Homo sapiens: one gene and its partners. The protein of the gene in region 2 purifies or fractionates together with the protein of the main gene of each other region. This does not show direct contact. Each region holds a gene or a part of one and is shown on either strand. Other genes may lie near its edges.

Evidence for each region.
Region 1: the proteins of NUP93 (region 2) and DHX38 fractionate together in Homo sapiens (co-fractionation; one large-scale study listed by BioGRID). This does not show direct contact.
Region 3: the proteins of NUP93 (region 2) and AIRE purify together in Homo sapiens (affinity purification with western blotting; one study listed by BioGRID and IntAct). This does not show direct contact.
Region 4: the proteins of NUP93 (region 2) and ZFP91 fractionate together in Homo sapiens (co-fractionation; one large-scale study listed by BioGRID). This does not show direct contact.
Region 5: the proteins of NUP93 (region 2) and RSF1 fractionate together in Homo sapiens (co-fractionation; one large-scale study listed by BioGRID). This does not show direct contact.
Region 6: the proteins of NUP93 (region 2) and TLN2 fractionate together in Homo sapiens (co-fractionation; one large-scale study listed by BioGRID). This does not show direct contact.
Region 7: the proteins of NUP93 (region 2) and NUP88 fractionate together in Homo sapiens (co-fractionation; one large-scale study listed by BioGRID). This does not show direct contact.

The regions. Positions count from the first base shown.
Region 1 is NC_000016.10:72,096,847-72,100,346, reverse strand, and holds part of DHX38 (pre-mRNA-splicing factor ATP-dependent RNA helicase PRP16), read right to left. Parts: coding exon 3,338-3,500; intron 2,671-3,337; coding exon 2,566-2,670; intron 1,703-2,565; coding exon 1,555-1,702; intron 1,421-1,554; coding exon 1,302-1,420; intron 1,144-1,301; coding exon 1,067-1,143; intron 616-1,066; coding exon 460-615; intron 1-459. UniProt on the Homo sapiens protein: Probable ATP-binding RNA helicase. Involved in pre-mRNA splicing as component of the spliceosome.
Region 2 is NC_000016.10:56,838,129-56,841,628, reverse strand, and holds part of NUP93 (nuclear pore complex protein Nup93), read right to left. Parts: intron 2,678-3,500; coding exon 2,560-2,677; intron 2,109-2,559; coding exon 2,025-2,108; intron 1-2,024. UniProt on the Homo sapiens protein: Plays a role in the nuclear pore complex (NPC) assembly and/or maintenance. May anchor nucleoporins, but not NUP153 and TPR, to the NPC. During renal development, regulates podocyte migration and proliferation through SMAD4 signaling.
Region 3 is NC_000021.9:44,284,733-44,288,675, reverse strand, and holds the start of AIRE (autoimmune regulator), read right to left. Parts: upstream 2,801-3,943; 5' UTR 2,670-2,800; coding exon 2,538-2,669; intron 2,120-2,537; coding exon 1,945-2,119; intron 1,699-1,944; coding exon 1,543-1,698; intron 1,160-1,542; coding exon 1,085-1,159; intron 332-1,084; coding exon 218-331; intron 1-217. UniProt on the Homo sapiens protein: Transcription factor playing an essential role to promote self-tolerance in the thymus by regulating the expression of a wide array of self-antigens that have the commonality of being tissue-restricted in their expression pattern in the periphery, called tissue restricted antigens (TRA).
Region 4 is NC_000011.10:58,603,063-58,606,562, reverse strand, and holds part of ZFP91 (E3 ubiquitin-protein ligase ZFP91), read right to left. Parts: intron 1-3,500. UniProt on the Homo sapiens protein: Atypical E3 ubiquitin-protein ligase that mediates 'Lys-63'-linked ubiquitination of MAP3K14/NIK, leading to stabilize and activate MAP3K14/NIK. It thereby acts as an activator of the non-canonical NF-kappa-B2/NFKB2 pathway.
Region 5 is NC_000011.10:77,810,723-77,814,222, forward strand, and holds part of RSF1 (remodeling and spacing factor 1), read right to left. Parts: intron 1-3,500. UniProt on the Homo sapiens protein: Regulatory subunit of the ATP-dependent RSF-1 and RSF-5 ISWI chromatin-remodeling complexes, which form ordered nucleosome arrays on chromatin and facilitate access to DNA during DNA-templated processes such as DNA replication, transcription, and repair.
Region 6 is NC_000015.10:62,841,550-62,845,131, reverse strand, and holds the end of TLN2 (talin-2), read right to left. Parts: 3' UTR 501-3,582; downstream 1-500. UniProt on the Homo sapiens protein: As a major component of focal adhesion plaques that links integrin to the actin cytoskeleton, may play an important role in cell adhesion. Recruits PIP5K1C to focal adhesion plaques and strongly activates its kinase activity.
Region 7 is NC_000017.11:5,388,663-5,392,162, reverse strand, and holds part of NUP88 (nuclear pore complex protein Nup88), read left to right. Parts: intron 1-500; coding exon 501-602; intron 603-3,202; coding exon 3,203-3,361; intron 3,362-3,500. UniProt on the Homo sapiens protein: Component of nuclear pore complex.

The DNA of each region.
Region 1 (3,500 bases), about 15 Mb from region 2:
ACAGAAGGCCACTGGTAGCTGCAAAGATGTCACAGGCCTCTACCCACAGCTCCAAAGACAGAAGAGGTGCTGATCCCAAATCACCTGCAGGAGTTTGTTCCAAGCAGCAGCACCTTTCATCTAAATCAGAACCTCTAGAGGGACACACAAATGGTAAGTGTCCCTAGCCCACATCAGAGACACAAAGAACACAGACCACAGAGGCAGGTCCCAATGCACCTGTTCCCATCAACAGTACTTCCCCTCAAGGAAGTACTGCAAAAGAGAGAAGTACGAGCCGGGGCTTTCCTTAAGCTACTAAAAGGCTCATCACCCACTCCTCTTCCACCTCCAGAGGATCTGGGCTTCTCGGCAATCAGGGGACAAGCTGTGCTGCCCTCACTTGGGGATAACCTGCTGCTTCCCCACGTGCTCTACCTCCAGCTCTGAATCTGCTCCAACTTCTGCAGGCAGCCTCACCTCATTGATCTGTCTCCGCTGAGCTGAAATGCGCTTCTGCTTCTGTTTATGCAGGTGCTGCTCCCGCCTCCTCACGTAGTCCTCGGAGGAGTAGGCCAGCGGGTTGTGGAACTCGTCATAGCCCTCGTCCATCATGTACCAATCCCGATCGGCTTGCTGCAGGGCAGGAGGCAAAGCAAGGGAGTGAGGGACAGATCAAGTTTATGCACGAGACATGGCCAACAGAAGAAGGGACGCTTGGTAGGAAGTCACTACTGCAGTGGAGCTACCCTTGTGAGGGGTGCAGGAGAGGCCTCCCTGCAGACACATGCCATCTGGAGGAGAACCACAGTGGGCAACTACACAGGACTGGAGGGCAGCCCATCACGATAGCACTTCTTAGATTTACCACATGGTGGCACCAACACATAACAGAACAGTTAGGTCAGCCTACTGCAGTGAGTGACAGGGTTCACCGTGCCGTCTATGCCTCTGCAAAGAGACTCCAGGGCATTGGGTCTGAACAGGGCTCAGGTGTACCCTCATCAAAGCCCAGTCCTGCTAGAGGGTCACCCATCTACAGACGGCCACCAGCCCCGATCAGCCCCTCAGAGGTATAAAACTTTACCCTCTGGTCATCTTCCCACTGCTGCCGCTCCTCCTCCGTGTCAAATGAAATTCCTTCTTCGCCCTCCTCACGTCTTCCTGGAGGAGCACAGGAAGCAGGTCAGTCCATGCCCTGGCCTGTCCCCAGCGGCCCCAGACAGATCTGCAGGGCCATGCAGCTCCAGAAGGGCAGCCCCTGCTCATCCTCGCTAGGGCAAGCAAGCCTGCTCTTCTGCCTGCTGCCCCACAGGCCTCACCTCGGCCCCTGGACAGACGCGGGGTGGACCCCAAGTGTCTTCTGTCATCGGCCCACTCGTTATATTTGTAGGAGGGAGTTGGCAGAGGCGTGTCATCCGAGTACTTGCCCCTCACAGACCTGGGAACAGCAGCACCAGCATCACAAAACTGTCACTGAGCTAAGCCACGTCCTCCTGGCCACCATCTGCTCTCCCTGCCGAGGCTCCTTACCGCCCACCCAGCGAAACTGGGCTGCTCTGCCCAGAACATCACCTGTCTCGATCTCGAGTGGACAGCCGATGGCTCCGCTCAGAATCCCGATAGGAAGGCGTCGGGGAGGGCGATTCCCACTGTGAGCGCCTTGAGGAGCCATAGCCACTGTCCTCTTCCTCCCAGGTAGACCTTGAAGGGGTGGCTGCATCTGGGCCACAAAAGACACATCCACAGGAAACATCTCACTTAACCATGACATGGTCTAGAACCAGTTGCCAAAAGTCAATTCCCCAAATTTACTCCTTTTACTATTTCTAAACCTTGCATGTATCTATAACGGTTAAGATCGGTTTTGACAGTTTTTAAAGATATCTCAATTTTTAATGGTCCAGGATGTATTTTTCCTTTTTTTCTTTTTTTGAGACAAAGTCTTGCTCTGTCGCCCAGGCTGGAGTACAGTGGTGTGATCTTGGCTCACTGCAACCTCTGCCTCCCGGGTACAAGTGATTCTCCTGCCTCAGCCTACCGAATAGCTGGGATTATAGGTACCCACCACCACCCCAGGCTAATTTTTGTATTTTTAGTAGGGATGGGGTTTCACCATGTTGGCCAGGCTGGTCTCGAACTCCTGACCTCAAGTAATCTGCCTGCCTCAGCCTCCCAAAGTACTGGGATTACAGGTATGAGCCACTGCACCTAGCCAATGGTCCAGTTTGCATTCTGTGTTTATGACAACATTTTAAGGGATATTTACTTTATCTCTACAAACACACCCTTCTTGGATATAAGTAGTTCTTTTTAATAAACACTTCTTCTACCTCCAGCTCCCTATTCTTTCCTACCATTTGGAAAACTGGCCATTCAGCAAACCAGCCTCTCACCTTACAGGAACCATATCCACCCCAAGTGCAGAGCTGTGCCCACCTGACTCAGAACCAACTATCCCAAGATGTTCATGGTAGAATCGGGAATTCTGACTCAATGCCTCAGCAATCTCACTGAAGACGAGAGTCACTCACTCTGCCTTTTATACACTTGAATCCTCACAAGCCACCAAAACAGTGAGTCTACCTTTAGGTCGATGTCGTGGGCTCTCGGGTTCATTTCTTCTGCTGCTACGCTCTGACCCTCCATCTCGCTCTGATCTGCTGCTGTGCCTACTTCTATCCCGCTCATCTATGAAGAGTCACACGAAGCTTAAAAACATGCATCCCATCCTAAGGTATACACATCTTCACCCTAGAGAAAGGACAGGCTGCCCACTCACTCACAGGTGCAACCTGCACTGCTCGAATGTGATCCGTGGACTCCTGAAACTCACCTATCCCCATTCTCCCAAGGGGGAAAAATAGTTACTGCCTAGAAAATTTCAAACCCACAGTAACAGTTATTTTCCAGCAAGAATTCAAAAAATACTAGTGCGAGTTTACAGTGAATCATTTTTTTTAATAGTTACAATTCTATCAGCTATAAAACTTAATACTGAGCAAGGACAGCATTGGATTTTTTTGTCTAGCTTTGTTCCATAGCACTGTCCTTTCTCTATCACCAATACTATTAGAAATGCTGGTCTCTTATACATATTTACCCATTATCTCCTTTATCATCAATTTTCATAATAAAACGAAGACCACACACTCAAGGAGAGCAGCTATGTTACAGGCAACAGCTCTTTTCTTAAACTAGTATTCCCAATCCCAGCAGGGTCAAAACCACTCAGGCGGACATCATGCAAATAGGACTCCCTAACAAATGGGTGTTGCAAAAACTCCTGCAACAAGAAAAAGGCTGACACATTTATTCGAATGCTAATGGACAATAGGAACTGTGCTGGACAGTTTACCTCTGTCCCTCTTGCGGTCATAGTCTCGATCCCGCGATTTCTCCTTCTTCCAATCCTTTTCTTCTTTGGACGAGGCATAGACACCATGTTCCCGCCGCTCCCGCTCTCTCTGCCGACTGCGTTCCCAAAACTCTTCGCTCACACCACCCGGATGGGATGGAGT
Region 2 (3,500 bases):
TGCTCCAGGCAGGCCTGGTTGCACCACTCCTCACCATTGCCAGGTGGAGAGCCACACAGTCACCCAAAAGGAGCTGATGGCACTGAAACATCAAGTGTGAGAAAAAAACCCAAGCAATGCTGCTCAGGTCAGGTGGTTACTGTTCCTGCTCCTTTATGCTGTTTTTCCCTTAGTCAGGGGCAGTGAGCCAAAAGCATGCTGACATCTGGTTAGCATTAGGCTTAGACTGGCCAGCAGAGTGGCTGCCATTAAATAATTTGAACTTGAATGTCAGGAGGTACAGGTGCACACGCTACTTCTCCACAGTCCCTACCACTCCTCACTCTCTCAAACTCACCGGGCTGTTTCCACTAGATCTGCATGACCCTACCAGAGTCCTTGGGAGTGTCTATAAGGCCAGGCCCTCGTGTACCACTTTAATCCCTGATGCAATGAAGGATGCATTCAAGGAAAGGCCAGAAATAACAAAGGAGCAAGTGGCTAAGGGTAGAAGCCACAGCAGGTATAAAGGGAAGGTCAGCAAGGGGCAAGACCTTCTGAACTGTGTGTACCACAGCAGTCAACATCCCTCTTCATGTGCAGAACTGGCCTTACTTCTTTCTCTAAAATAGAAACTTTTTTTTTTTTTTTTTGAGACAAAGTCTCCCTCTATCGCCCAGGCTGGAGTGAAGTGGCGCAATCTCGGCTCACTGCAACCTTTGCTTCCCGGGTTCAAGCGATTCTCGTGCCTCAGCCTCTGGAATAGCTGGGACTACAGGTATGCGTCACCACGCCCGGCTAATTTTTGTATTTTTTAGTAGAGATGGGATTTTACCATGTTGGCCAGGCTGGTCTCGAACTCCTGACCTCAGGTGATCAGTCCGCCTCAGCCTCCCAAAATGTTGGGATTATAGGTGTGAGCCACCGCACCTGGCTGGAGACATTTTATAAAAGGCATCTGCTCAATGAGGAAGAATTGTAAACTGAAAGACCACTAGTGACATCCCAGAGCCAGGCAGCTGGTTCTAGAGTCTATAGTGTCGACAGCTGAGTTGAGTGTTTATAGTTCTAGAGAAGAATTTACCTGGGCCACACACTGGAATGACTGGGGGAGGTCTGGGCTGCAGCAATCAGGGAAAACAGAATCTCTGGGGTGTAGGCATGAGGGTTTTTAGAAACTTTTCTAGAGATGCCAGTATGCAGCCCAGCTGAGCACCCTAGGCTAGATGCTGGCAATATGCTAGAAACCCAACAGACAGTGGCTCTGGGGCTTATGGGGTGATAGCTTACTCCGCGGTCACTGCACTTGCGTCTTTAGACAAAATGGATTGGCTGGGCACGGTGGCTCACGCCTGTAATCCCAGCATTTTGGGAGGCCGAGGCGGGCAGATCACGAGGTCAGAAGATCGAGACCATCCTGGCTAACACGGTGAAACCCCATCTCTACTAAATATACAAAAAATTAGCTGGGCGTGTTGGCGGGCACCTGTAGTCCCAGCTACTCGTGAGGCTGAGGCAGGAGAATGGTGTGAACCCGGGAGGTAGAGCTTGCAGTGAGCCAAGATCACACCACTGCACTCCAGCCTGGGTGACAGAGTGAGACTCCTCCGTTTCAAAAACAAAAAAATCCCAAAACAGATAAGGGAGGGCAAAGGTGGCAGTGAATCATGATGTGTTTCACGTACCCAATGGAACTACTTAAAGATGATCAGAGTTAAGCACTAAAATACCCTCTAGCACAAGCGGATAATAGAAGAATTAAACCAGACTTCACAGATCAACCAGAAACCTGTTTCTCCCAAGAACATGTCAATCACTGAAGTGACTGTATTTTCTCAATTAGGAATTCAGACAATAATCTGATGGGGATGTATGCACTCACAGAAAAGCCAGGCCAAGGTATCTGAAAGGGAACCACTCTGGAAAACTCAGTCTGGATAGTTACTGTAACTAGAATTCTTAAAGCTGTTAGGTACAGGAAAAGAAAAAGCTTTTGGTGGAAGTGGGGAAAAAGGAATTCCACAACTCAGGAAGAAGGAACTTACTTCATCACTGAAATTTCTGAAGGCAGCCACTCTCTCTTCCACACTTTCCTGATTCAGGGGCACCAGCTTCAAGCGCTCAATGATCTGTTTAAAACAACCACCGGCCCCATGTAACACAACCATCACAGTCATTTCATCTCTCTACATGTAAAGTCAGCACCTCACATACTCCAAAGGGCTTCTTCATAGAAAACGCCATTCCTCCTTGTACACACAAAGGCTTTGATTCTAACTAGCTAACTTAATTCTTATCATCATTTCCTGACACAATTTTTAAAATTCTGAGATTGCAAATTACTTTGAGAAACTTCTCTGTTTTCAGATTAAAGGGGAAAGGAATAGGCAAAAAAAAAAAAAAAAAAAAAAAAAAAGCCACACAGGAAACTCCTTTTAAGTCCCAGGATTGTACTTGTCTTTCTTTATACAACAAACATACTGGCAACAGCTCCTTTGTTTTAAGTAAATTCCATGAAGTGTTTTGAATTTTCGAGGGTGTACATTAACCTGCACTTCAAACACCTTTCCTGAAACTTACATCAAAAGCTCTATCAATATGACCACTATGATACTCGTCAAAAAAGGTGATCAAGTCCAAAAGAAGATAGAACGTGGAGTCCACAAATTTATTTGCGCTTATTCCTTGAGCCCTATACCTGAAAGACAAAAACGGGGTGGGGGTAGTAAGAGTGTATCAGGAATTTCTGTGTAATCCGTAACAGTGGAATAGCATTTAAAAAAACAGTGGGGTGTGGTCGCTCATGCCTGTAATCTCAGCTACATGGGAGGCTGGGGCGGAAGGATTGCTTGAGGCCAGGAGTCAGTGACCAGCCTGGACACACAGCGAGACCCCATCTCCACAAAATATTAAAATATTAACTGAGTGTGGTGGTACATGCCTGTAGTCCTAGTTACTCAGGAGGCTGAGGTGGGAGGATTGCTTGAGCCCAGGAGTTCAAGGTTACAGTGAGCTATGACTGCACTACTGCACTCCACTCCAGCCTGGGTGATACAGGGAGACCCTGTCTTAACATACAAAAAAAATGTATAAAAAGCATCAAAACCTTCTGAGCTCTCTGGGTGAAGTTAATTAAAGAGTGTAAAATGGTGTTTATTTTGAAACAGCCAAGCACTGATAGTGGATTTGGTATGAATCCACCTACAGGTACTCCACCACATGAAGCATGGTTCTCCAGCCTTGATCATCATCTCAGCATCCAATCTTCATGAAAGGTGGGAGGTCGTGATGGGCAAAAAGCCGAGCAGCCCTCACTGGGGATTGTTTGCTAGGTGGAGATATCTCATTTACCAAAGAATGTTCTTTTTTGTTACCCCGGGAAGGCACCCCAAACCCAGTTTTCTCTGGGTCATTTTACTAGGAATATCTACAGAGAGCGCAAAAAGTAATGTTGTTAGCTTCAGCCTGGGACTTAAACTAGTTAGAAGTCTGATAATTCAGTTAACTCACTGGGGATCCAG
Region 3 (3,943 bases), on a different chromosome or scaffold from region 2:
GCCTGGACCGCTGGCCTTGCAGAAGGTCCCCCGACAGGGAGACTTCAGTGCTCACCCTCCTCCTCCAAAGTCAGCAGAACCACAGGCAGAAACTCTGGCTACCTGAGCAACAGTCCGGTCTGCTGTGGGACCACCAGGATGCAAAGGGGCGTGGTCCTCCTTCCATCTTGGAGCCTGGGTCTCCCCATCAGCCCCATCTCCCCGCCACAGCGTCTACCTGACTCAAACACCTGCTGGATGAGGATCCCCTCCACGGCCCCTCGGGCTCCCGGGACGTCCCCGGAGGACATGGCCACAGCTCTCTGGACTGAAGCTGACATGGTCTGAATCCCTGGGAAAGGGAACACCCATTGGGGTCACCCGTGGGGAAGACTGTTCCCAAGCACATACTCTATGCCAGAAGCAGGCAGCACTGGGCTGCAGAGCCCTTTCCTTCCAGCCAGGGCAGGCCAAGGAGGGGACCCAGCCCTGCCATGTGCAGACAGCCCACAGGTAAGTGCAGAGACATGAGAATGTGTGTGTTCGTGTGTGCACCCAAGTGTGCGTGTGCTGGGGGGTGGCAGTGTCAGCAGAGCTGGCACAATGGATAGGAAGGCATGACCAATGACCAGACCCACCCCCCCATGACATGGGCCCTGTATTGTGCCGGGAGGGACACAGAGTTCCTAGGCTCTGCCCTCAGGGAGATAGGGGGTCTCTGGAGTCCAGTGCCCTGGGAAGGAAGGAGAAGGGGACAGGAAGGGTTCAGCCTGCATGCAGCTGGGGGCCAGGGATGATTTTCTGGAGGAAGCTATGTCTAGGCTGGTCCTGAAGGATAGGGAGTGGACGGGCAGAGAAGGTGCCTGAGAAGGGGGTCCCAGAACCAGGGTGCAGTGGGGGCAGGGGCGACTGGCAAGATCATGCTTAGACCCAAGGTGTCCCCTTCCTGGGTCTGGTGGTGCAGCTTAGGCCCTTGGAATGACACACCAGGCCAGCACGTCCCCAGCCCCTAGGACAGGGTCTCAGAGGGCAGGCCCTGCTCTGACCCCTGACCCCTTGCCCCTGGCCAGGGAGAAGGGAGGCGCTCCCACTGGGCCCCGCTCACCGTTCCCGAGTGGAAGGCGCTGCTGCTCTGCGCTGCTCTCCGGCTTCTTGGGGGGCTTGGCCTTCAGTTGAGAGCCTGAATGGGGGAGCTGGGGGCAGCCTGGCCTCCCCTCTCAGTGGGGGTGAGTGCCGGTGGGCAGGGGCCCGCGGTGGGAGGGCGTGGAGGGGGCGGTCCAGTGCTGGGTAGTCCCTTTGCCGGGCTCTGGTTTCTCATCAGTAAAAGGGAAATGAGACCCGCCCGCCTACTTCACCAGCTCCGGGGAGCTCAGCCTTCAGGCAGGAGGGAGCTGAGAGGCTGGTCCAGTGTGTGGGTCTAGTACCCAGAGGAGACCCCCACAGCCCCAGGCAGGCTGGCCCCACACCCAGTGGGTGGGAGCCCGGGTGGGGAGGGGGCGTGGGCTCCCGGGGAAGCCCGGGAAGACTGGAGACCCTGGCTGGCTTCCCCTGCAGGGAGGGTACCTGGGCTGGCGGTGCCCCTTGGAGTCAGGGCTGCTGGCGCGGCAGCTCGAGCCTCTTCTGAGGCCTTCCTCTTGGTGGGGAGTCTGGGTGGCGGTACCAAAGCCTTGGGGACGGCCGGGGGCTTCCTCCCCTTCCGGGGCTGGCTGAGGTCCACATCTGCAGCTCAGGGGCAGGAGCAGGGTCCCAACCTCAGGGTTTTCTCCAGGGGTAGGGTGGGCCCCAGAACTGGACACCTTGGCCAGACAGGTGAGGCCTGGCCCCTTTGCCTCTTAGGATCCAAGACGGTCCTGGAACATCACCCACGGGCTCCTCAAACACCACTCCGGTTCCAGTCCAGCTGGGCTGAGCAGGTGACAGCAGCTGCCCCAGGCCCCCAGCATGGCTGAGTCCACCAGGACCCACCTTTGGGGAAGCTGTCCAGGATGGGCTGCAGCCGGCCATAGCGCTCCAGGTTGTAGTCCTTGAACAGCACCCTCCAGAAGTCCAGGATGGCTGTGGAGTCCTGGGTCAGCAGCCAGGACAGGAGGGCGTGGAAGGCCTGGGGGCAGCCCTCCTTTTCCTTCAGATGAAGCGTCTCCTGCAGTGGGGTGGCATGAGGGTCCCTGCCATGGTCCCCCACACCCTGCGGCCTGCCCATCTCCATCATGACTAGAGGGTGGAGCTCCCAGGCAGAGGCGCTGGCGACCTGGACAGCTCCACGCCCATCTCCTCGGCTTGTGGTGGAGTCAGGTGGTGGTGTAGGGGTGTTGAGGGTGGGGCTGGGGGAACCTGGAGGCCATTCCCTTGGCTTGGGGGTGAGGTGTGGGGACGGCTGGGGGAAGGGGACCAACTTCTAACTTGTCATCAGGGACGCCCCTGGCTCCTTGTGGGGAGGGAGTTGGGGAAGGCTGGAGGGGCTTGGGGATCTGGAGGGGCGGGGTCCTCCTGGAACTTCCCCGGGGACTATCCCTGGCTCACAGGGCCTGGGGGCAGCGGGGGGCGGGCGGGGAGCCCACCTGAAACTTGTCCTCGGGGACCACGTCGTGGTCAGCCAGCGCGTGCAGCAGTGGGAAGGCGCTGTCCACGGCCACCGCGATCTCCGTGCGGTGCAGCCTCAGAAGCCGGCGTAGCGCCGCGTCCGTCGCCATGGGGTGGGCGCGGGGACCCGGGGCTGGGGCGGACGCGGTGGGTCCCGGGACACTGGCAGCCCCTCGCTTGGCCTCGGGTCCCGGCGGGGCTGTGGGGCCTCCGCGCCGGCTGTGCGCCCGCCCGTCTCCCCGGTCTGCGAGCCACGCGCGCCGCTGTTATACCCCCGCGACCACGCAAAGAGCAAAGGCCGCTCCGCCCCGGCGCCCAATCAGGGCCAGGGCCTCCCGCAGGGACACTTCCCTGTGATGGAGGCGCTGCTGTCCCTCCCTCGCTCTCGGGAAGTCTCCGGGCCTGGCCTGACTCACCCACCAGGGCAGCTGCCTTGGGGGCTGGGGACAGAGACTCGCTCTGTGCGGGACTCAGAGAACTCTCACTTCCGAATGTGGCCCTGTCCTGCCTCGGCGAGGGCCCTGCTCGAATGGGGCAAAGCCGAGACAGGTGCCCTCGGCGGGGAGGCTCGGGTCTCAGGGCCCTGGCAGGGGCTGCCCAGGGTGCACCGGCCCCTCCCAGTGGCCGGCAAGAGCCTCCATGGAGGCTGGATCGGGGTGGTGTTCCTGGGGGACCTCCACACAAGCTGAGAGCCCCTACTCAGGGGCCCGCCTGGGGCTGTGGGAGGAGCCCGATGGAGGCTCAGTCTGATGCAGGAGACGGTACGGCAGCCTGGGTGTTGCCAGGGAGCTCCTGACCTCACCATCTTAGGCTAGCTGTGTGACGCCAGGCAAGTCCTTTCCTTCTCTGAGCCTCGGTTCCCTCATCTTTAAAAGGGGCACACTCGCCTGGGGATTGAGGCTCGCATTGACCCCCTCCTTCCTTCCTCCAGGTGCTTTAGAAGGAAGGCGGCCAGCCCCACAACGGGGGTCCTGAGTGTGGCCCTGAGTGAGAGCTCCCAAAGGGTCTTCCTAGGACCAGTGACAGAGGCTGAGGGATGCTGTGGCCTGGACAGGAGCTTCCGGGGGCATCTGGGAAGGTGTCCGGGAGGGGAGCTGCAGTGGACAGGAGCCGAGGGTCCCAGGTGGACGTGAGTGGGGACAGTGCCCCCAGTAAAACAAGACCAGGTGCAGAGGCCTGGGGCCTGCAATGATGCTGAGGCTGTGGTGGCCCCGCAGGCATGGCCTGGAGGGGGGGTGGCCTCAGTGGGAGGCCTTGGTAACAGTCCCCTTGTCTGTGCGGTCAAGCCAGGGAAGCAGGCCCTGTGTGCAGGCTGCAGAGAACCACGAGAGGTCTCTGGGCACGAGTGTTCCCACTGAGCCAGAGAACGAGATGACCTGGCCAG
Region 4 (3,500 bases), on a different chromosome or scaffold from region 2:
CAATATGCCCCAGTAACAAACCTGCACATGTACCCCCGAATCTAAAATAAAAGTTGTAAAAAACAATGTTTAAAGAACTAAAGACAATCAGAGCTAAAGAAAATCACTGACAAAGTACTAAAGGAAATCAGAAGAAATATGTCTCGACAAATACAGAATACCAATAAAAAGATAACTATAAAAAGGAACCAAGAGAGGCCGGGTACAGTGGCTCACACCTGTAATCCCAGCACTCTGGAGGGCCAAGGTGGGCGGATCACCTGAGGTCAGGAGTTCGAGACCAGCCTGGCCAACATGGCAAAACCCCGTCTCTACTAAAAATACAAAAATTAGCTGGGCTGCTTGTAGCAGCGCATCCCTGTATTCTCAGCTACTTGGGAGGCTGAGGTAGGAGAATCACTTGAACCCAGGAGGTGGAGGGTGCAGTGAGCCGAGATAACACCATTGCACTCCAGCATAGGCGACAAGAGTGAAACCACACCCCCCCCACAAAAAAGGAACTAAGAGAAAAAAATTCTAGAGCTGAGAAGTATAATAACTGAAATTAAAAATTCACCGCAGACTTGAAAAACAAGAATCAGTGAACTTTAAGCTAGGCCAACAGAGATGATCCAGTATGAAGAATATAAAGAAAAAAAGAATAAAGGAAAATAAAGCCTAAGAGATCGTTTAGACAACCATTAAGCATGCCAACAGATGCATAATAAGATTTGCAGAAGGAGAGGAGAAAATGAACAGAAAGAATATTTGAAAAACTATTGGGGAATATAGTCTGTACAAACAAGAACTTTACCTAACTCCTAGTAGGATAAATGAAAGAGATCCCCACCTAGACACATTATTATCAATCGGTAGAAAGACAAATACAAAGAACCATAAAAACAGCAAGAAGTGACTCATAAGCAACAAGGAATACTCAACAAGATTAACAGCCGCTCATCAGAAACCATGGAAGTCAGAAGGCAGTGTGATAACAAAGTGATGAAAGGAAAAAAAAAAATCGTCAAGCAAGAATTCTATAGCTGCCGAAACTATTCTTTAAAAACGAAGATGAAATTAAGACATTACCAGAAAATCAAAAACAGATTATCACTAGTAGATCTGCCCTATAAAAAATGCTATCAGGAATCCTCTAAGATGAAATTAAAGGACACTAGAGAGCACTTAAAGCCATAAATTAAAACACTGGCATATTTTACAGAGGCAAAAATATGATATTGTACTTTTGATTTCTAACTCCTTTTTCTCCCTACATGATTTGAAAGACAAATGTACAAAATAGCAACTGTAAATTTATGTTAATGGGCATTTGACATCAAAACATACACTTTGCAACAATAACATAAATGGTGAGGCACAGAATAGTACAGAGCAGAGATATGTTTACTACTGAAGCTAAACTGGCATTAAACTAGATAAAGTTTAAAGTACTAAATGCAATCCCCAGGTAACCCCTAAGAAAATAAAAATATACAGAAAATGAAAAGAGAAGATGGTACACTGCTATATATCTGCAACACAAGGAAATACAAAGAAAATAAAGATCAAAATAAAAGATATTAAGACAGGTAGAAAACACAAAGCAAAATGGCAGGCCATTCTTATCGGTAGTTTACACATACATATAGTGTGGAATTAAAAGGTACATATTAGCAGAATGGATTAACAAAAAATACAACCAATCTACAATCTGTCTACAAGAAACTCACGTTAGACCTGGTTGTCCAATCTTTTGGCTTCCCTGGGCCACACTGGAAGGAGATGACATGTCTTGGGCCACACATAAAATACACTAATGATAGCTGATAAGATAAAAAAATTTAAAAAAGAACTCATAATGTGTTAAGAAAGTTTACGATTTTGTGTTGGGACACATTCAAAGCCGTTCTGAGCCGCATTCAGACTGCAGGCCATAGTGGACAAGTTTGCTTTAGATCCAAAGACACAAACAGGTTCAAAGTAAAAGAATGGATTAAGATATTACATGCGAATAGTAAGCAAGAGAGAGCTGAAATAATGTATTAGTCTACCAGGGCTGCTCTACCAATCACAACAAACTGGGATGTCTTAAAACAACAGAAATCTATTCTCCCATACTTCTGGAGGATAAAAGTCCAAAATCAACACAATAACAGACCACACTCCCTCTCAGACTCTGAGAAGAATCATTCCTTGCCTCTTCCTAGCTTTTGGTGGTGGTCAACAACTTGGCTTATAGCTGCTAACTTCAATTCTATCTCCATCATCACACGGTGTTTCCTCCTGTCCCATGTGTGATGTCCTTATTCTTATAAGGACATCAGTCATAGTGGATTAGGGCCCATTGTAATACAGAATAACTCCATTATAACTTGATTACATCTGCAAAGATCCTATTTCCAAATAAGTTCATATTTACAGGTATTAAGGGCTAGGACTCAACACATTTTTGGAGGGATAAAATTCAACCCGTAGTAGTCTGTACCTTCTGGTTCCCTAAAATTTATGTCCTTCCAATGTGCAAAATACATTCACCTAATCCCAACCTCCCAGAGTCTTAACCCATTCCAGTATCAAGTCTAAATCCAAACAATACCTAAAAATCATCAACTCAAAAGGGATCAAATCTCATCATCTAGATCAGTTATGAATGAGACTGGGGGTATGGTCCACTCTAGAGCAAAATTCTTCTCCATCTGTGGAGCTGATTCCAAAAAACAATGGTGGGACACTTATAGATTACACATCTCCATATCAAAAGGAAGAAAATAGAAGGGGGGAAAAAGGGTCAGGGGTCCCAAGTTAGTCCAAAACCTAGCGAAAAGCATTAGACTTTAAGCCCTAAGAATAAGCTTTTGTGGATAATGGTTTGTACTCTGAGTCCACTGGGGAAATAGCCCTGCCATCGTGGCCCCAGGAAGTCTAATACACCCAGGACCCAGCATTTGCAGCTCTACCCTCAGCATCATTCTTCTTTAATTCCATTCTGTCTCTGTCCCATTCAGGCCAGCCTGGCAGTGTTTCTGCTGTCACAACATTCTCAAAAACTTTGTCAGTCTTTCATGAAATTCAGGGGGTCGAAGCCACCAAATGAGAGTCCTCCACAGATCTTTCCTGAAAAATTGCATGTCTATTCTGGGAAGTGCTGAGATGGCTGATTCGATCCACAAGTTATATACCAAGTCTCTTTAGAGAATAGCTGTCCAGTCACAGCCTTGGTCCTGTACCACAATACACTATTTGGACAGACTAAAAAATTTTCAAATTATCAAGTGCTGGCTCCTTTTTGCTAAACAATTCATTCCTCAATTTATATCTTTCCTCTCACACATTAGTATATAAGCAAGAAGAAACAAGGCTATACCTTCTACACGTTGTTTGTAAATCTACTCAGATAAATATCCAAGTTCATTGCTTACCCAATGATAGAACACAATTCAGTCAAGTTCTCTGCAACTTTATAACAAGGATCACCTTTTCTCCACTGTCCAATAACATGTTCATCATTTCCTTCTAAGGCC
Region 5 (3,500 bases), on a different chromosome or scaffold from region 2:
ACTAATTTGTATTTTTAATAGAGACCAGGTTTCACCATGTTGGCGAGGCTGGAAATTTGTATTATACTGGTTCTAAATGTATTTTCAAAAACAGAGATCATCATCTGATAAGACTTCCATCTTCATACACTGGAATAAAGATCAGTAAATTTTTTTCTGTAAAGGGCTAGACAGATAATAAGTTCTTCAGGTTTTGGGTTTTGTTTTTTTCTGAGACAGGGTCTTGCTGTTTCACCCAGGCTGGAGTGCAGTGGCATGATCAGCCTCAACCTCTGGGACTCAGACAATCCTCCGAAAGTGCTTGGATTGCAGTATGAGCCACCATACCCAGCCCAATACTTTAGGTTTTGAAGTTATATGTTCTCTGTGACCATCACTCAACTCTGCCACAGTTGTGTGAAAGCAGCTACAGACAACAGAATGTAAACAAATGAACATGGCTGTATACCAGTAAAACCTTATTTACAAAGATAGAGAGGACAGGCTGTAGATTGCCCACCACTGTACTAAGCTATCACAGACTAGGCTTTAACTTCAAAGTTTTAGAGCAGAACATGGTCCTATAGTAAGTTGAGGAAAACTATTAATTCCACAAACATTTACTACATATTTGCTATTACCCACCAATTGCTGGTGATAAAATAAAGTAAGAAACCCTGTCCTCAAAGAGTTTACCATCTTGTAGGCTAGGCAGTAACTGCAAAAAGTGTTATGAGTACTGTGGCATAAAATCTACAAAGTGTACGTGCAGGGTAAGGAGATTGAAGTGGTTAATTTAACTTGAGAGACAGAAAGAAGGAAATTTTCCACAGAGCATTTGATGCTTAAAGAGCAGACTAATGACGGGTACAGTGAGCAGGCAAGGGAAGGAAGATGGGGATGGTATATTCGACTCAGAGGCAGGAGGACGAAGAAAAAGCATAAATGTAAAACAACCTTTCACATCTTCAGAGATGTAAAAGCAGTTTGGCGTGATTAAAACTAGCAATGAGAACAGAAAAGCAAGGTTGAATATAAAAGGGGATAAACAGACTCAATATAACTTGGTATCAAAGAAAGTGTCAGAGGCTAAGGTCTAGGATGCCTCCTTGGTTTCTGATCTGAGTGACTTGGGTAGATGATAGTAACATTCATTTAAGAGGTAATTCAAGATTAAGAATAAATAAATAGGCTGAGCTTGGTGGCTCACGCCTGTAATCCCAGCACTTGGGGAGGCTGAGTCAGGTGGATTGCTTGAGCCCAGGAGTTTGAGACCAGCCTGGGCAACATAATGAAACTCTGTCTCTACTAAAAATACAAAAAATTTTTAGCTGGGTGTGGTGGCACATGCCTGTAGTCCCCAGCAACTTGAGAGGCTGAAATGGGAGGATCGCCTGAGTCTGGGAGGTAGAGGTTGCAGTCAGCAGAGAACAAGCCACTGCACTCCAGCCTGGGTGACAGAGTGAGACCCTGTCTATAAAAATAAGAGTACATAAATACAAGCAGAAATTCAATTTTCCTTTTAAAAAGCCTCTTTAGAAATCTAGTTTTAAATAGTTTTTTGGTGATTATCAAAGAAATGCACAATTAACATAGAAAATGAAATGTGAAAAAATATAAGAAAAACCAAAGGGAAAAAACTGTATAATCCTACTATTCAGAAAATGATTAAGATAAACATGTACAAATACTGGAGAATAAAGCTTAGAGTCTAAAATTAAATACAGACTCAACCTCCACTACGAAAGCTTTCTGGAGGAACTCTTGCTTACATGAGCCATATATACATTATATACTTCATGTTGCTCTTCAAGCAATCCTTGTTCAACTACAGGAGGCTGAAGCCTGGTCTGTCTGCTGTCAAGTTTTGCCCTCATGCTCTTCTTTCTTAAAATCAGTTTGGGCTGGATGTGGTGGCTCATGCCTGTAATCCCAGCACTTTGGGAGGCCGGGGCAGGCAGATCACTTGAGGTCAGGAGTTTTTGAGACCAGCCTGGCCAACATGGCGAAACCCCATCTCTACTAAGAATGCAAAAAAATTAGCTGGGCGTGGTGGCGGGCACCTGTAGTCCCAGCTACTCAGGAGGCTGAAGCAGGAGAATCACTTGAACCCAGGAGGCAGAGGTTGCAGTGAGCTGGGATCGCACTACTACACTCTAGCCTGGGTGACAGAGCTCCATCTCAAAAAAAAAAAAAAAAAAAAATCAGTCTGGTGTAGTTTCTGCTTGCTGTGCCCTCACAACTCATGTTCTTACACTGAAAAGATCACCTTAATTTTGGACAAACATTCTAAGCATAACTTTTAATTCTTGCTCTTTGTCCAGCCTCTAAACTGGTAAGATTAAATAAACACTGCAAATTCCCCACCACCTCATCCCTGCTTCTTCTGTTTATTAACAGAAAGGCACAAATTATGAAATAATTTGCTAAAATCAGAATATCTTACACAACTTACTTTGAGAGAAACCAAATTTATTTGATAAGTATTTTTAAATGAATATTAAAACTTACTTAATTCTGAGCAAAACATGAAAGTAGTCTAATGATGAATGGGATCAAGTCTGCCATTTATAATTTTTTTTTAACAACTGGTAATCAATTTATTAAAATAGTTGACTTAAGCATCTGCAATGGTGACTTTCACCTCAACTCCCGGCTCAAACTGATGGAAGCAATCTGCTTAACAATCTCAGAAGGACTGTGCAAGTCAATGAGTCGCTTGTGGATTCTCATCTGGAAAGGATCCCACGTCTTAGAACCTTCACCACAAGGACTTTTTCTGTAGTGATTCTCAAAGTCTTGGTAGGTATTCGAACTGGTCCTTTCACTTGGAGATTCTTTGCCTCTGCTCCTCTGATGAAGTCAGCACACACCTTTTCCAGGGATTTTATGTTGCGGCTCGTTAGAGTGATTCAATTTCGGTGAACTGCCACCTCCAGCTCCACGCGTGTTTTTCCGGTAACCTTCAAAGCCATAGCTGCTGCACGGCTTCCTGACCGACTTGTTCCTCGGCGAGAGCGAACAGTAGTGAGTAAGGAGCAGGAGCCTGCGGATCACAGAGCCGCAGCACCTACCACCGCGACTTCCTCAAAGAGCGGCCATTTATAATTTGTAAAAGGACACACACACACACACACACACACACACACACACACAGAGATAATGGAGAATTAATACAATTTAACACATCCCTAAACTCAGGATAAAAATAAGAAGTGGCTGGGCACAGTGGCTCATGCCTGCAATCCCAGCACTTTGAGAGGTGGAGGTGGCTGGATCACCTGAAGCCAGGAGTTCAAGACCAGCCTGACCAACATGGCAAAACCTGTCCCTACTAAACACATAAAAATGAGCCAGGCATGGTGGTGCATGCCTGTAATCCCAGTTACTTGGGAGCGTGAGGCAGGAGAATCACTTGAACCCAGGAGGCAGAGGTTGTAGTGAACCAGGATCGCGCCACTGCACTCCAGCCTGGGCCACAGAGCGAGACTGTCTCAAAAAAAAAAAAAGTTTTGGCCACA
Region 6 (3,582 bases), on a different chromosome or scaffold from region 2:
GCCTCACACTTTTCTAAGTCTGGCTGCCCCGCCACAAACAAGGACTTCTGGCCCCCAGCAATTCCCAGTCCAAACAGGAAGGAGGGCCTGGCAGTCTCCGGGGGTTGCAGTTGTGGCCTCAGCTGTCAGAAGTGAACCTAACCTTCCTGTGCCAGGACCTGGGTCAAGATTGGAGATGATCCCATATGCACTTCTGTATTCAGCTGTGCGGTCTTCTGACAGAGGCGGTATGTAAAGCCAAAAAGCCCCCTAGCTACTTGTCCAGGACGCCTGCTCCTGGAGTTTCTCCAAGTTAACTCTTGTCAGCAAAGCTACATGAAATTCTGTGGCACCCTGTGGCTCTGCGTCTGTCACTCACTCACACACACGTGCTCTCTCCTGACATACCTCTGGTAACTATGGAGCTAGTCCTCAAGGTGGAATTTTACTCTCATGATAAAGACAGTCTCTTCCCCCTTCTTTTCCATCTTCCTCCCATTCCCATGAGTCCTCCACACAGGTTTGTTCCTTTAAAGGTTTATTTCTGGCAAATAAAAAAAAATAACTTATGTGGTTAGATAAATTAATGTATGTGATTAGATACGACACAGGGCAGAGCTGAACGTTCCTGTTTTCTTCTGGATCTTGAAGGTTGGTGAGAGGCCGCTGAATGAGACCCAGCCTCGTGTTTTGTGGGATGAAGAGATGCAGACAAAGTGACTCAGGTACACTGATGCTCCCTGGAGGGCTGGGAGGTGGGCTCAGAGGAAGAGGCCGAATCCAAACCTTTTTTATTGAAAAGAAATAGCTCTTGTTTGTAGCATTTAAAAGAATCAACCCAAACTCTGCACACACTCATCCGTAGTGACCATAAACATGACATACCAAGCAGAGGCTCAGAAAGATGGAGCAACAGACTGAGGACATTTTCAACATGGTACTTGGGGATACCTTTGGGAAAGATGCCTTCCCCAGCAGAGGCCAGCACTGTGGAGAGATAGGACCAGAGCCACTACTGGCACAGTTGTCAAGATCTTTTGCTTTCTGAACTCTGGGGACCGCTGCCTTTTAGCCTGAGGGGAATGTCTCCAAATTTCTTGGGTTGGTAAGTCTCAGAAGCAGCCAGCCCCTTGGTCAACAGAGGGTACCTTTCCTCCAGGAATCTGAGAATGGAACATGCTGATAGTCTGTGCTGAGATCTTAAGGCCAGCATCCCAGAGGCCTTTCCAGAGCCCAGAACCTCAAAGCTGGGAGAGAAGATTCTGGGGACTATCTGCCAGGGAGGAAACCAAGGCTCCTCGGGGGTCAGCGTGTGAGTTCCCCAGGAGCAGAGACCATGGCTTGCTCACCACTTTTGACCTGTGTCTGGTTCCTTGATGAGGTTTTGGCCTTGGCATCACTTTGGAGGTGGGGTTTACTCTCTTAGGCTATGGTGAATTTTGGTTATAATTTTTTGATAAATTAGGAACAGGCTTTAGTTGCCTGTAAACACACTGACTAAGACAGCCAGAAAGCAAGCAGGTGAGAATCAGAAGAAGCTCGAAGGGTTTTCCCTGATAAAAGCATATGCCGTGAGGCTACAGGCAGCTCATTTCTTAAGGCCCGTGCATAGACTGCAGGCTGGGCAGCTGCCTCTGCAGCCGACCTGGAGGGACTGTGTTGACCGACTGCAGGGCCAACCAGGAATTGAGGAACCTGCCTGCACAGATGGCCAGGGCCACAGCTGGCTGGACACTGGCAAAACTTAAACAAGGGCTGTTCATTGAACTAAATATGACCTCAGCATCCCTATCTAAAGACTCCTGAAAGGCCCAAGTAAAATCTAAATTTTCAAATCACTGGGCAGTTCTGAAATCCAGTTCAGGTTCCCCTTTTGGCCATCGGGAACAGCAATTTCTGGCACAAAAATCAGCCCAAGGATTCAAAGCCCTCGAGGAGTAGAGGGGTGTGAGAAGAACCACATGTCAACACACCGGCTCTCTCTTCACAGAGATACACTTCTATGCTCCAGACCTGGGGCCGTTTTTACTCTGACACCACTCTCTTATTAGGTGTTCTGAAAGTTCACACTCCCAAATGAACTCATGCCTGTGTTATTTTCCTTTGAAGGACCAGAAGGCCCCCTCAGTACCATCTGAGGACACCGCAGTAGTGCCTATTAAATAACATCCAGACAAGGCATGGCCCTTCAACTATCTTATGAAATGAGAAACCACCACACCGGCCACGAAGCCGTTCACATACACATGTGCAGGGTGGATGAGGAAAGGACAGATGAGAAACTGGGACCATACCAGGTGATAACTGAGAACCAAACTCCCCAAAGCTCCCAGCACTGGACGACTCCAGAAAGGTGAGTATTTATATAGCTCCTACAAAAATAAACTTTCGATGCCTGTTCTTTAGAGTTATAAAGGAAAGGCCTTTGCATTTGGTTTGTCTCTGGAGGCTTTTCTGGTATCAAATGCAGTAAAGGTTTTAAATGACTCTGAGGCAAGGTGGAAGAACTGGCTGCCTGCCCCTGCCTTGGTCCTGGGTTTTCAGGATGGGATGGGGCACAGGCAGAAGAGGGCAGCTGCCCTGGGCACAGCATAGAAGAGCAGAGGGTGGGGTGGGCTGGGCCACAGAGGGGATCCCCAGAGTCCTGTTACAGGAGGCCATGAACACATTGTGACTCTGAGCATTGGGGTCTGACTCCTGAGTGTCTCTGGAAGCACGTGTGCCCCTCCTCTCAGTGTCCGGCCAAGGCAGGCATGAGGTGTTGGATCAGCTCCACTCAAAGAGGGCGAGCCAAGAGTGTGCCAGCTTTTCCCCAACAGGCTAGGGCTCCAGCAGCTCCCCTCCTCTTCAGAACTGGTGCCCACACACTGTCAGTGTCCTACACATACTCTCACTTGCTTTTCCTTTACAGCGTCTTTTCTCTAACTTTACTGGTCTGAAAAAAAAAAATTCTAATACGTGCAGCACTTATAAGTAACTTATAAATATGGGAAGCTGTCAGAAGTTTATGTATTTTAAAACCATGACATGGGCTAGAGTCTGGTGAAACAAGATCGGGCAAGGTCGAAAGGTGACATCTTCGGAGGACCAAAGCACCAACTTTCCCCCGTCAGTGGAACTTTGAAACTATAGTGTGGATGGAGTCCAAGACATGATAGCACACCAGAGAGAGAGAGAGAGAGAGAGGCGGAGGGTGAGTGCCTTTAACTGTTACCAGTTTTGAAAATCATGTACTTCCATTAACTTTTACCTTCCCCACTATGAATTCTTTCAAACACTCCTGCTCCCTGGCATTAGATTCTGTCCCACGAGCCATTCATCTTCCATGCACTGCCTTGGCTAAAGGTGCAGATTAAGGGTAAATTCAAGCCCTTCCCTTCCTATGGGAGGGCTCTGAAAAGGGGAAAGAAAAGAGGGGAAAAATATGAAATTCTGGAAGTGTGACATCCAGAAAATGAAAACATCTTATGTCTTATGTGATAATAAGTAAAACTATCTTGTTAAAGGTTCACATTGATTTTAGGATGCATTTAGATTTTCTGGATATTAAGACAGAAAAAAAGGCGTTTTGGGTTGGAGGACAGGGGACAGGTTTGTAAGCAG
Region 7 (3,500 bases), on a different chromosome or scaffold from region 2:
GAATGACAGTTCCCATCTGAGGTCTCAGTTTCCAGTGTCTTCACTGAAGTGGGAAGGAAGACTGAGAGAGATACACGCTGTGCGTGCCAAGTGATTTCCTGTGACATTGACATTGGGCCTCATTGAGAGAGACTCGGTAGTTCTGTTCATTCAACAGTTTCTAAGCACTTAATTTGTTAGCACTGGGCTAGGCAAACAAAGATAGCTGGGGCTTATGTGCAAGTTGGAGAGATCTTCAGTGTAACGTGTAACTTTTGAGATTACAGTCAGCAGCACGCTACAGTTAGGGATTCCTGAGTGACTTAGTCACATGGGCTCTAGACTTTAGTGTGGAGCTGCATTAAAGGTTTCCAAGCCACCACTTTTGAGGTTATGGTACTGATAGGATGTCCCAAGCAACTTCAGCCCAGGCCTGAGAAGGCCGCGGACCTGTCATGTCTTTGCTCTTGGTTCCATTGCATTTGCTGCTTTGTAATTTAACTATGACTGTGTTTTTCCAGGCAGCCAGCTCCAATTCGAGGATTTTGGATTGTACCTGACATTCTGGGACCCACGATGATCTGCATCACCAGTACCTATGAATGCCTCATATGGCCGTTATTGTACGTCCCATTTTATATTCTCCACACAGCTCTTGTTAATTCTGCAATATCTAAGTTGGGAAAATGCACTCAGTAACCAACTTGAAGCTATACATGTGTGGTTTATACTTTGGCTTCTGACTTGAGGGTTGGAAGGATGGATATTTCTGTTCCTGCCATCATCTCTATAAGGTTTCATTGTAGGTATAGTTTCTGGCATCCCCTGCACCTAGCTGAGAGTCAGGAGCTTTTCTTCAGAGTGTGGAGAAAAAATACTAAAATTGAATACCAAATTCCATTATCGATATGAGTAATAATTATCAAGCTGTGACCATACGCCAAGCTCAGAAGTAAGCCACGTACCCGCACTGCCTCCTGGAATCATCAGGGCAGCCCTGTAAGGAAGGCACTGTCATTTCCATTTTATAAAAGTGGAAACGGGGATCGAGAGGTTAGTAAATGCTGAAGTCACAGGTAACAAATAGAGCTGGGATACAGATGCAGGTCTCATTGACTCAGAAGTCCATACTCATACTCTTTAATTTCTCCATCTCTGCCAGCCTGAGGGACACTGTAGACTATGTAAACTGGAATAAAGCTGAACTCAGGCTGGGTGCAGTGGTGGTTCATGCCTGTAATCCCAATGCTTTGGGAGGCCCAGAGTTCGAGATCAGCCTGGGCAAAACAGTGAGACCCCCATCTCTACAAAAAACAAAAAAATTAGCCAGGCATGGTGGTACACATCTGTAGTCCTAGCTGCTCAGGTGAGAGGATTGCTTAAGCCCAGGAGTTTTAGGCTGCAGTGAACCATGATCATGCCACTGCACTACAGCCTGGGTAACAGAGCAAGACCCTGTGTCTTTTAAAAAAAAAAACAAAAAAGCTGAACTCTTAGTCTTTGCTCCTTTAAGGAACTCAGATAATTAAGCTGTAATCACTATGTTCCTTTTCCAACAGCCCTGGAAGATCATTCTGAGTTACATAAATGTAGGAATATGAGTACCAAAAACAAAAGTCACTGGAGCTTCAAACACTAGACAACACCCCCACCCCTTGTCCGTTCAAAGCTTGCACCTCTGGATGCTGACATAAATTCCTAATACTGGCAGTAGTTTACTGTCCTTAGAGGATCTTCCATAGTCTTTGAAGCTTGATTAAGTTGTACTATCTGGATGTAAAAATAAATATAAATTTTGTGTTATTTACACTGAAGGCACTAAAAGCTAGCAAGACCAAACAAAAATAATAAAATCACTGGAGAAAAAATTACCTGTAAGTTACCTCAGCATACTTTTTAAACACCCACAGTACATTTAGTAAAATAAAACCTAGTCACACTAGCTTACTTCAGAATAAATATGAATCCCAAAGGGGAAAAATAAACATTAATTGTCTGGATATTTTTTTTTTTTTTTTTTGAGACGGAGTTTGCTGTGTTGCCCAAGCTGGAGGGCAGTGGCACGATCTCAGCTCACTGCAACCTCTGCCTCCCGGGTTCAAGTGATTCTCCTGCCTCAGCCTCCCTAGTAGCTGGGATTACAGGCGCACACCACATGCCCAGCTAATTTTTATATTTTTAGTAGAGATGAGGTTTTGCCATGTTGGCCAGGCTGGTCCTGAACTCCTGACCTCAGGTGATCCACCCACCTCGGCCTCCCAAAGTGCTGGGATTACAGGCATGAGCCACCGTGCCAGGCCAATTATCTGGATACTTTCAGATCATATTTCTGCCAACTCCCTGAAATACAAGTTGTCTATAAAGTTATGCTATTTCATGAACTTTCACTTTTTTTTTTTTTTTTTTTTGAGACAGAGTCTTGCTCTGTCACCCAGGCTGGAGTGCAGTGGTGTGATCTCAGCTCACTGCAACCTCCGCCTCCTGGGTTCAGGCGATTCTCATGCCTCAGCCACCCAAGTAGCTGGGATTACAGATGTGTGCCACCACACCCAGCTGATTTTTATATTTTTAGTAGAGACAGTTTTACCACGTTGGCCAGGCTTGTCTTGAACGCCTGACCTCAAGTGATCCACCTGCCTCGGCCTCCCAAAGTGCTGGGATTACAGGCGTGAGCCACCACGCCCAACCAAACATTCACGTTAGAATTGTTGCCTTCAGAGTAAGTCACTTGCCATGCTGCCGAAGTCTGTGAGATCTTTTAAGCTCTTTTTGAAGTTTGAGTATTTGCACTTGACTGAATAGTTTTTAGAAATGAAATTATATAGAACCAATATGGTATATACAGCAGTTTCTTGGCTTAATATTGGTTTTGATCAACTCTAAACCTAACAAATAAGTAATTTATGTTTGTGGCTCCGGCTTATAAACTGGCTTTCAAGTCCTTTGCCAAGAATCCATGCTAGGTGTTTGTGCTGCCTTGATCTTTTAGAAAAGAACTGGAAATGGCAGTCAGAAATGCTTTCACAAATCAGGGGCATTGGAATAATAAGGGTGTAGCTTCCCAAAGTGACCTTTTCAAGGTGGAAAACATGCATTCTTGCACTTTTACAAAAGTTACACTTTATTTTATATTCTGAAAGTTCTGGATTAATGTGGTTTCTGCTTTCCTGTAATACAGTAAATCACTCCATGGTAGAATTCAATTTACTTACTTATTTTGCAGAAGTACAGTCCATCCAGCGTCTCCTCCCCTGCTTTGTACTCGAGAAGATGTTGAAGTGGCAGAGTCTCCCCTCCGTGTTCTGGCTGAAACCCCAGATTCCTTTGAAAAGCATATTAGAAGCATTTTGCAACGTAGTGTTGCCAATCCAGCATTTTTGAAGTATGCAACCTTGGGCATAGCGGTTTTATGAATGGGTTCTCTTCTGTCTTCAGAATTACTGTGCATCCTTTCTGTCCTCATCTGTTTCATATACTTTTTACTGTGATAAATTTGGAAGAAACTGGATATATTTGATCAG